Linked DNA regions of Homo sapiens. The protein of the gene in region 1 interacts with the protein of each later gene in a biochemical or structural test. Each region holds a gene or a part of one and is shown on either strand. Other genes may lie near its edges.

Evidence for each region.
Region 2: the proteins of TTC1 (region 1) and GNA15 form a complex in vitro, tested with the Homo sapiens proteins (one study listed by BioGRID).

The regions. Positions count from the first base shown.
Region 1 is NC_000005.10:160,033,039-160,040,335, reverse strand, and holds part of TTC1 (tetratricopeptide repeat protein 1), read right to left. Parts: intron 5,197-7,297; coding exon 5,136-5,196; intron 3,646-5,135; coding exon 3,533-3,645; intron 1-3,532.
Region 2 is NC_000019.10:3,159,880-3,164,393, reverse strand, and holds the end of GNA15 (guanine nucleotide-binding protein subunit alpha-15), read right to left. Parts: intron 1,602-4,514; coding exon 1,375-1,601; 3' UTR 645-1,374; downstream 1-644. UniProt on the Homo sapiens protein: Guanine nucleotide-binding proteins (G proteins) are involved as modulators or transducers in various transmembrane signaling systems.

The DNA.
Region 1 (7,297 bases):
CAGAGCAATTTCCAGTCCTGCAAGATCCATTCATGGCATACACGGTATATGTATGTGTGTGTGTGTGTGTATACATATGTGTGTGTGTTTATGTATCTATATATATAGATGCACCATTTAAAAAATACTGCATTTTTACTGCACCTTTTCTTTTTAGATACACAAATACTTACCATTGTGTTCCAACTGCCTATAGTAATTCAGTGCAGAAACATGCTGTACAGGTTTGTAGCCCAGGAGCAATAGGTTATACCATATAGCTTAGGTGTGTAGTAGGCCATACCATCCAGATTTGTGTAAGTATACTCTATGATGTTTGCACAATGATGAAATCACCTAATAACACATTTCTCAGAATGTATACCCGTTGTTAAGTGACTCATGACTGTACTTTAAAATGGCCAACTTTATGTTATCTGTATTTTACCACAATAAACAAAACAAAAAAGGTTTCAGGGTCATCTGGGACCTTTTTTTATTTCTCTTTCAATGTTCAGCATACCAATTCAAATATCAAAAACTCTAAGAAGTCCTGTAAGTAATCTGTATAACTTTATATAAGTCAATATTTTTTCAACTTATCACATTTCTATAAGTCAAAGACACACAATTTCACAGTTTCTGAAATAGAAATAAATCTTTACAATTTATGTGTACAACTGTTGTGATGGTATTCTTTGTGTGCCTAGAAGTGATTATTAAGCTGTAGTGCATCTTATCCACTGTCTCCTCAAATCAAGGAATTATGGAATTTTATTGCAGAAACTTTTGTTTGAGGCTCATAGTCTACTAATACCTCAGAGGACCCAGGTGTTGTCTGCTGCTTACAATGGTAGTCCCCAAAGTGGAGTGTGTGGGAAAAAAAAAAAAATCACAACTTTACCATTCTTTCATAATTTTTATATATAGGTAGCTATCTATCTATATAAAACAGTATACATAATATATAGTGACAAAACAAATGTACACAGCATATAAGGACAAACAAATCTAACTATACATATAAAACAATGTATATAATATATAAGGACAGTAGTTAAAAAAAAAAAAAAAAAGAGAACCTACTCTTTTAGGGCTCTGCTCTTGTATAGCTAGCGAGACCTAGAGCTGAAACTCTGCCCTAGCTCCAGGTTACCTTTTCTCTCTCCAGATATGAAATGTGAAGCGTGGCCAGGGGCACTGAGTCAGGGATGCTGAGCTTGCAAACCTGCCTTTCAGAAATTCTTCATCTTTACCTCTTAAAGCAGTTAAACCATCATTTCCTTGAAAAACTTAGAATATAATATGCTCCTTAAATTGTGTCAGGGTACTAATCCTAGAAGTTATCAAGTCTCTCATTTTAGAGTCTTCATAAAGTATTAAAAATGCAACTTAAGGCCGGGGACGGCGGCTCACGCCTGTAATCCCAGCACTTTGGGAAGCTGAGGTGGGCGGATCACGAGGTCAGGAGTTTGAGACCAGCTTGACCAACATGGTGAAACTCTGTCTCTACTAAAAATACAAAAATTAGCCTGGCGTGGTGGCGCGCACTTGTAATCCCAGCTACTCAGGAGGCTGAGGCAGGAGAATCGCTTGAACACGGGAGGCGGAGGTTGCAGTGAGCCGAGATCACACCACTGCACTCCAGCCTAGGTGACAGAGTGAGACTCCGTCTCAAAAAAAAAAAAAAAAAAAAAGAAACGCAACTTAAAAGAACAGAAAACTTCACCAACAAAACTATTCTTTGAACAGGCAACAATCATAGAGCAACGCTCTTTTGAGTTCTCCTCAGATGTGACAGACAAAATACTAACAAGACCATACATTTTCCTAACTCAAGAACCAGACTATTTATGTGAGCCCAAACCTAGAAATATCAATAACTTGGGCAACTGTAGAAACAAAGAATCCCAAATCCCAGGAGCCAACTGGGTATGGTGCATTTCCTCTGATACTGAAGGCACATCCTTGATCCTATTTCACAATGACAATGTCCAGTCTAAAAATGTGGCAAAAGGGAGAAGCAAATCTAAAAGATCAGAATTTTCCAGGTAAGTGTAAAAACTGTTAGATGTTAATTCTGATTGCTGGTGGGACACATTAATGAATATTGTTTTAAATAAAGTTAAACCAATTGTTTTGTTTTCTCTAATACAAAATGTTGGTTTGTATACTATAAAATTATTTCTTCTCTCATGCCACATGAAATACTCCAAAAATACTCTGCTTTGAAGATTGAATCTTACACAAGTTCTGGTAAAAAAAAAAAACCGTAACCTTTCTGCATGTCCAAGCATTCAAGCACCCACCCCCGCAACCCTGCCCTGGGGCCTTTAAAAAAAACAACAACAACAAAAAAAACCTTGTCACCTAAAGTGACTGTGGTAGAGGCATTTGAGAATTTCAGACAGTATCAAAGAGATATCTGATCTAAACAAACAAATGAAAACACTGCCACTTCCAATCTTGAGCCAGCATCATGGTTGCTTAAAGGTATGTTAAATAACCTATCCTTTGTACTTTGGATGTAAGTAGCCATAGTTTAAAAAGTGGTATGGTTTAAAAAAAAAAAAAACCACTCTCATTTCAATCCAAGGATTATGAAGACTAAATCGGAAAATCAGACAAATCAGAAACAAATCTAACTTTTTTTTTGAGACAGAGTTTTGCTCTTGTCGCCCAGGCCAGAGTGCAGTGCACTGCAACCTCTGCCTCCAGGCTTCAGCGACTCTCCTGCCTCAGCTTCTTGAGTAGATGGGATTACAGGTGCCCACCACCATGCCTGGCTAATTTTTGTATTTTTAGTAGAGATGGGGTTTGACCATGTTGGCCAGGCTGGTCTCGAACTCCTGATCTCAGGTGATGTGCCCGCCTCGGCCACCCATAGTGCTGGGTTTACGGGTGTGAGCCACTGCATCTGGCCCAAATCTAACTTTTAATAAGGTCATGGTATAAAACAAATATATTTGTACTCTCACCTATTCCATACTCACCTTGTTATACTAGGTTCTCAGTCCTTTGGAAATACAAAATGTTTTCAAAGTTCCTTGACACCTATTTTGCATTTAAGGGTACCTTTTATCCCAGCTGTTGGAGATTTCTCCAAGTGTCCATACTTTGAACAGAAAAGTCAGAATCCTGGGAATAACCATCTTTAAAGATGCTTTAAAGCCCAGAGTTTTTACCAGTGTTTCCCTGTGCCTTTGCATGTTTATCTAGAATTCCAGAGGCCTAAAATAAGGATCTAGAGCTATTCTAGGACATGCACTGCTTGGCTCATTGCTTCATTAACCTGACCTAGTTTAGCAAAAAATTTGCCAGCCCTCCTTCCATGAAAGTATTCACTCAGCTACTTTAATGGGGAATGTTAACAGTAATCTGACTCAAGTTTTTCAAAAGATTTTCTATTCTCCCTGTGGCCTTTACATCAGGGAAATATATGGGCAGGAAAAGGGAGGCAGCAACCTCTATGCTAGTTTCTGGAGAGAAACTATGGTATGAAAAGACTGCAAGTCCATGTGCTTTTTAAAAAGAAAAGGTCACAGATACATACCTGTTTCATCCTTGCTGCAGCTCTATTTGAAAATAGAATCGACCTCTCCTTTTGGAAGCAGGATGGGCACATTTCGAGGGCTCGACTATAAGAACTTTCAGCTTCTATATAATCTGAGGATAAGAGAAAGGATGAATGGTCATTTTGATTTTATTCCTGATACTACTATATTCCACAGGATCTCAGAAGCACTGTTTTCCATTCATAGGATGAAGGTTTTGAGTTAAAAGATGGTAACAGTCTATTAAGTCTGGCGCAGTAAAAATCATTTCTTCTTTTCTTCTCTCTTTAAAGGAACAGTGCTTGCTTGTGCCAATCTCACAGGCTGTGCTTGGTGAACTGACAGCTGAACATGCTGTCAGTGACAAGCCCTCAATACTCAGGAGTCCTGGCATTCCCTCAATGTTCAGTTTTCATTTGGCTGGGCAATTCAGAAAGGAGTTTTCAAAGGAGGTTACAGAACTGGACAGAGGAAAGAGACTAAACTCTGGGATCCATGGCCTGAGATAAAGAAAAAAATTATACATATTTGTTTTCATTAAATCTGTTGTGCTTTCATACAGTCAACCTGGCTAAAACAGCATCCGTGAAATGTTTGAAGAGAGACATTTGATAGAGCTAAAAGGAACAATGTAAAAATCAATATTTAAATCAAGACCTTAAAAGAGAAAATGGTGAAAAAGAGAATTATGGTCAGGATACTAATAGAAAATTGCCTATGTACTCCTTTCTCAGGTTTGAAATATTTAATATTAACATACAAAAAATATGCTTCCAAAATTAGAAGTGTTTATTCTATTAGAAAACAGTATTAATGATTACTAAACCAAGATATAGGAAAAAAAAAAAAACCCTAAAATCTGAAATCAGGTAATAGGGTAACTTTTGGAAAACAATAAGAAAAAAATTAAAAACCTGAAAATAACTAGCGGAAAATGTTAACACTCCTAGATTTCTGAAGCATATACACTTTAAGATGTGACAGAAGACTTTTGCTCTAAGATCAAATAGTTACCCCAAATTATCAGAATGAACCCCACCAACTTATTTCTAAGCAAATGTAGAAAATGCAGAAGGACATGAAGAATCTCCCTACTTAAGGCATCCAAAGAAAATGGCACATGAAAGAGCAACCTTTCTGAAGCAGTTTGGAGAATTTAAAAAAAGAAAGAAAGAAAGAAAGAGCAACCAAAGGACAGGCAGCCCTAGGCCATACCAGAGCAGTCAGGCTGCTTTCACAGCCCCACAGCAAGTGAGGAGCGGCGACTCTGCTTTCACAGCAATGCAGCACATAACCTTTAATATTCCAGGTTAGTGTTTTCCAAAGCAAGAGCTCAAGAGTTTTACCCCTGATTCTAGACTAACAGATAGTGGATTACAGAAAGACTATGCATGTGCCAAGAGACAAATGGTAACTGGTCACCATCAGATGAATAATTTGGCCTGGTTAAAAACTCAAAATGCCAAGGTACTGGGAAGCAACACTGTATTGTGAAGTCTGGTTTTGGGGTTTCTTCAGATGTTCTTTGGGGTTTCTTCACAGACTCTACAACAGGATGAGGAGTCAAGATGACCAGATTATCAGTGCTGAAAGTCGTCTTACCTCCTTTCTTAAACTGTTCATTTCCCTCCTCCTTTAGTCTAGTGCTCTCTTCTCTTCTTTTCTGAAAGACATCAGAGAATTACATAATTTCTCACAATATTATTATAAGTGAACAAAAAGGTGAGCTTTCCTTATGCACAAGTCTATTTAATAGGCAACAGTCTGACTTTTGAGAACTGCATCAGTTTCACCAAAACCTTGTACAGTGATAGAGGAAAAAAAACACATGACCATCAGGCTAATTATCAATTGCATTCTTGATGTTTAAAACAAAAAATGTAGGTCTTCTTGGCATGTCCTTTGCTTTCTATGTTTCTATCTTTTGCAATGGAATGATAATTACAGTATCACTTAATTTCTACTTACTCAGAAATGAAACTAAATAACATACCCACTGGTGTGCATACCAGTGTAAATTCAAATTGTAGCTTCTAGTACTTACTAGTTATGTGGCCTCGGACAAGTTTCAGAATCTTTCTGAGCCTTAGTTTCTTCATTTCAAAAATGAAGCTTTAATAGTATTATGGACTACTGTTTAATGGATTAATGTCATAATATACATAAAGCTGCCCATACAGTGACTAGCAAATAAGGGCTCAATAAATAAGCTATTATTTTCTGTGAAATAAGTACTTTAATCCTTATAAGAACCCTTCATGGTTTGTGTCATGAAGGAGACACAGTATGCTAGGAGAGCACATTTGTGGGTACAAGCCAAGTCTGTAGGGTTAGGGCAGTATACTGTTAGCAGGTTAACATAGGAAAATGTGAAGAAACCTAAATAAATAAGTCTGTCTTTTCTTAGCTTATTCAAACAACTCAGAAACTCACATAGATGGCCAAAAACTCATCAAACACAAAGGCTGAGAGAATGTTATCCTGCAAAGCAAAGTAGACGCATGCTGAGTGTGTGCACTTTTTTGTGGAACATCTTAACAATATAACTGGCACAAGCCAAACCAGAAGAGTCTGTATGCCTGCCACCTTTTGACAGTGCTTTAAAACAAAAACAACAAAAAAACCCCAAAAACAGAAAATCTACCAAAGTCCCTTAAAAAAAAAAAAAAAAAAAAAGAGATAGGGTCTCACTATGTTGTCCAGGCTAGAGTGCAGTGTCTATTCACAGATGTGATCAACACACACTATAACCTTGAACTCTTGGACTCAAGTGATCCTTCTGCCTCAGCCTCCTGAGTAGATGGGACTATAGGTGCACACCACTGTGCTGGGCTCTTTCCTCCTTCTTGAAGCTTCTGATTAAGTAATTTCAAAGGGAGGAAATACAGTTAGCATTCTGATTAAGTAATTTCAAAGGGAGGAAATACAGTTAGCAGGGTATTTCATGCACAAGAGAAGCCTGGAACCTAAACAATTGGTCCTTTTAACATGAGGAACTGATATGATCTGTGTTCCTACCCAAATATCCCCACGGGTCAAGGGACGGACCCTGGATCATGGGGACGGTTCCCCCATGTTGTTCTCATGATAGTGAGTTCACTTTCATGAGAACTGATGGTTTTCAAGTGCCACACTTTAAAACCATCAGCTTTCTCTTCACTTTCCGCCATGATTGTTAAGTTTCCTGAGGCCTCTATAGCCATGTGGAACTGTGAGTCAATTCAACCTCTTTTGTTTATAAATCACCCACTCTCAGGCAATTCTTAATAGCAGTGTGAAAATGGATTAATACAGGAACCAAAATAAAAACATTCTTTCTCTGGAAAAGATTTGTCAATATGCTATTGATGAGACCGGGTATTTCCCAAATGTCTTATTATTACACTATGGATTAAACAGAGCACTTGATGAATCTCAGTGAGGAAACTAAAAGGTAAGTATAGAGTGAATCTAATTTTTATGGTACATACTATGTGCCAGACACACAGCAGGTACAAATAACAATTCATTTTAAGATATAACGTATCTGAGGGAAGGGCTATTCTAAAGGAATTCAGAAAAAAATAAAATATAAGAATATGGCCATATTTACCTAGTACTACCCATAAGAAAGATGCTTAGATTGTAATGATCTCTACTGTATTGATTAGGGTTACTGGATGCAAGCAAAAGACTATCTTAAGCAAAAAACTTTAGGGGGCAGGTTTACTGGCAAGGTATCAGTGCTCACAGAATCAGTGAGAGGCTTAACGAATAGGCTTAGA
Region 2 (4,514 bases), on another chromosome or scaffold:
AGCGGGACTCCATCAAAAAAAAAAAAAGTAGCCAGGTGTGGTGGCGGGTGCCTGTAATCTCAGCTACTGCAGAGGCTGAGGCATGAGAATCACTTGAACCCAGGAGGCAGAGGCTGCAGTGAACCGAGATCGCACCACTGCACTCCAGCCTGGGCAACCAAGTGAGATTGTCTCAAAAAACAAACAAATAAAAAACCACAAATGTGTTCAACGTAGGAACAGGCTCCTGCCTCTGTCAATTCCAGGTGTGTGAGCTTAGTCAAATTACTCCACTTCTCTGCGCCCCGGTTTCCTCACCTGTAAAGTGGGGTGCTACGGCTTGCACCCCAGAACACTGCCCTGAGGATAGTAAGAGGCCTTCTCAAAGCTGGGTGGGGGCTGCTACTGGAATTTCAGGTCAGTAGCCACGGAGGAGTCTGCTTCAATGTCCCCCCCAGCCTGGGAGGGAGGTTGGACTCCACGTCCCGGCTTGCGGGACTCACAGCCTCCACAGTTCTGGGTACCATGGCCAGGACAGGTGGGTAGACAAGAAGTATAACTTTTTTCCTTCCTACTCCACGTTGCTCCCCGCACTGTAAGCACTGCCCCCGGGACACGTAAGCCGAGAAAGGAATGCAGAGGGGATAAACAGGACGCTGGCGACGCAGCCTCTAAGAAATCTTTAATTTCAGCCCGCACGGAGCCCTGCAGAAGGTGAGGGAATAAATACAAAAGGTTAAGATGCAGCATGCCCAGCCCCCAGCCTGCAAGGGATGGGGGGATGCTTGTGGGCCGCGATTTCTCTCGTCCGCAAACCGGGGCAGGACACGCTGTGAGCCACCGAGCTCTGAAAGTGACAGTGTTTTCCAGCGGTCTGTTACCCCTTGCAAAGGGAAGTCCCTGCACCCCTAGTCCACAGGTTCCTGGAAGGCGTTCCTTCTCCTGTCCACTAGAGTGCGCCAGAGTCCACGCCCGAAGGCGCCTGAAGGCTCTACTAGCCCCATCCCAGGGTGTGCGTCACCCACAGAGGGTCCCAGAACCCTGCCCAGGAGGTGACACGCCCGGAGATGGGGCTCCTGAGAGATGCCCACCCACCCAAGTCCTCAATCCCCTGATTTCTTCACCTTTTCATCCACCCTGGCATCCCAAATGGCCGTTTTGCTCCTTCCCTTTCAAAGGAGGGAAACTGAGTCAAGCAAGGGCAGGAGTACCCTGGGGGGCGGCTGTCCTGGTGAGAGGCAGAGAAGAGAGCGGCCAGCAGCGGGCCGTCCGTCCCCCGACTCCCTTGCGTGTGGGCCGAGGCTGGAGAGATAGACCAGGGACACTAGGGGTCCCTGCAGCCACTCCCACCTCCCACCCGCCCGCCGGTGCCGCCTGCCCCAGGTGGGGCCTGGGTCACAGCAGGTTGATCTCGTCCAGGTAGCGGGCGAGCACCGAGTCCCGCACGTCCTTGAAGACCTTGCGGATGTTCTGTGTGTCTGTGGCACATGTGTAGTGGCTGAAGAGGCGTCGGGATCGTGCGCCCTTCTTGCTGCCCTCGGGGCCGTCCACGCACCCGGTGTACATCCTCGTGTACATGTCCAGGATGAACCTCTTGGCTGCCTCAGCATCCTGCTTAGGGCCTGGGGAAACAGTGTGGGAAGGGGGTGAGGACCCTCCCTCTTTGGACCCAGGGGGCCTCTGGAGACCCTCTTCCCTGTAACCAGCACTGAAGGGACCCAGGGATCGCGCCTGTCATTTTTCTGTGCGTTGACTCCATCTTTTGTAGTCATAGCTGGTCACACGACTCCGGCCCAGCCAATGGGAACACAGGAGATTGTCTCACACGAGTCATGTGACCTGAAATGGACCAATGAGACCCAGCTCTGGGACTTCGGGCAGAACTGTGTTAAAGAGAGACACTCTCTTGGCCTCGCTTACAGCCAGTGCAGTTGGAAGACTGGAATCGCATAGACAAATATCCCAGGACTGTGAAGATGGCGGCATCAAGGCCAAACGAGGGGAAGAGAGTCCTCTTTTTTTTTTTCTTGAGATGGGGCCTCGCTCTGTCGCCCAGGCTGGAGTGCAATGGTGCAATCTTGGCAGTAGCTGGGATTACAGGCGCCTGCCACCATGCCCAGGTAATTTTTGTATTTTTAGTAGAGATGGGGTTTTGCCATGTTGGCCAGGCTGGTCTCGAACTCCTGACCTCAAATGATCAGCCCGCCTTGACCCCCCCAAAGCGCTGGGATTACAGGCGTGAGCCACTGTGCCCAGCCCTGCATAGGGTTTTAACATGAAGATTAAAGAAGCTTTGTAGAGTGCTTCCACCAGTGCGGTAGATGTGTTAGCTGCTGTTATCAATTTTATTATTATTATCATTATTATTATTATTATTATTTTGAGACAGAGTCTCACTCTGTCACCCAGGTTGGAGTGAAGTGGCATGATCTCAGCTCACTGCAACCTCCACCTCCTGGGTTCAAGCGATTCTCCTGCCTCAGCCTCCCGAGTAACTGGGATGACAGGCCCCCGCCACCACACCCAGCTAATTTTTGTATTTTTAACAGAGATGGGGCTTTGCCATGTTGGCCAGGCTGGTCTCAAACTCCTGACCTAAAGCGATCTGCGCGCCTCAGCCTCCCAAAGTGTGGTTTCTTATTATTATCACAAATATTATTTAGCACAGTGGAGGGTAGGGCTGGGAGTCAGCAAAGAGTGCACCAGTCACTTGTGCTGGGAGACAAGGATGAGTCATGGGTGGTTCCCTTTGACCTGAATGAAAAAAATATCTACCTTATCCTGTTCCCAAATTCTCTAAACTATGAGCTGATTCCCAGGGCTGCTTGGCAAGGAAGAGGGGCTATCCAGGCCACCATCCTGGAACAACTTGACGTCTATCTCCCAGACCCTGAATCTTGTGGGTATAATTGGCTAAAATTGGCCTCATGGGCTCTGAGACATGACAAGACCAGGGATCAAAACCTGGTGACTTCACCAAAGTTTATGTTTACTGATTGTGGACCTGGTGTCAAGCATGTACTAAGGACTCATCTACTATGGTTGCTTGTATATTGAGGTGAACAGTGTCCCCCAAAATTCATGTCCACCTGGAACTTCAGAATATGACTTTTAGAAATCGGATATTTGCAGATGTAATTAGTTAAGTTAAATTAGGTCATGGCCAGGCATGAGGGCTCACGCCTGTAATCCTAGCACTTTGGAAGGCCAAGGCAGGTGGATGACAGATGTGTGGTTGGGCCCAGGAGTTCCAGATCAGCCTGGGCAACATGGCGAAACCCTGTCTCTACAGAAATATACAAAAATTACCCAGGTGTGGTGGTGTGCGCCTGTAGTCCCAGCAACTCAAGAGGCTGAGGTGGGAGGATCACCTGTGCCCAGGAGGTTGAGGCTGCAGTGAACTGTGATCACACCACTGGACTCTAGCCTGGGCAACAGAGCAAGACCTTGTCTCAAAAAAAAAAAAAAAAAAAAAAAGTGGTCATACCAAAGTATGGGCCCTAAATCCAATGACTGGTGGCCTTATAACAACAGGAGAGGACACATAAAGGCATGGTGAGAAGACAGCCATGTGAACATGGAGGCAGAGATTGCAGTGATATGTCTACAAGCTAAGGATTGTAGGCCACCACCAGAAGCTGAGAGAGAAGCATGGAATGGATTTTCCCTTAGAGCCTCCAAAAGGAACCAACCTTGCCAATACCTTAACTTTGGACTTCTGTTGTTTCCTGTTGTTTTAAGCCACCCAGTTTGTGGTACTTTGTTACGGCATCCCCAGGACATGAAGGCAAGTTATCTCCAAGATGGCTGCCGTCACTTCCTTCCCTCCCTGTATGCATGTGTCATGCTGCCTTCAAGAGATGGAGTCTCTTTCTTTTGAATCCGGGCTGATATGAGTGATGTGCTTGACAAATAGAATGTGGCAGAGTAACGTCTGACATTTCTGAGGCTATCATGAGAAGCAGCTTCCACCTGGGCTGAAGTCTGTCTACCCTGAGGCAGCCATATTGTGAGTAAGCTCAAACCATGTGAAGAGGCTGTGGATCATGAGGCCCCAGATGGAGACAGAGAGAACAGGGGAGGTGGAAAAGGAGAGACAGACTAGGAGAAAGGGGAGGAGAGAGAGATGAGATGGGAGAGGGAGGCAGGGAGAGACACAGAGAGAGAGGCCAAGAGTGCCAAGAGCACCAAGGCACCAGACATATGGGGGAAGAAGCCATCTTGGAAGTTTATCTCCAATCCCATAGAGCCCAGCTGATGTCACATGGATCAGAGATGAACTTACCCAGCTCAACCTTTCCCAAATTCCTGACCCACAAAATCATAAGCAAAGGAAAATGACCAGTTTAAGTCACTAAGTTTGGGGATGGTTTGTTACTCGGCAGTAGCTAAGCAGGACACCCGCCACCACACTTTATCCTCACAGTGGTGTTCTGGGGAAAGTGCTAGTGAATATGTACCTTCCCCACGTTGGTCCCTGGATTAACCACAACTCTGCCTCCCCTTTGTAAAATATACTAAGTGGTGCCCAACAC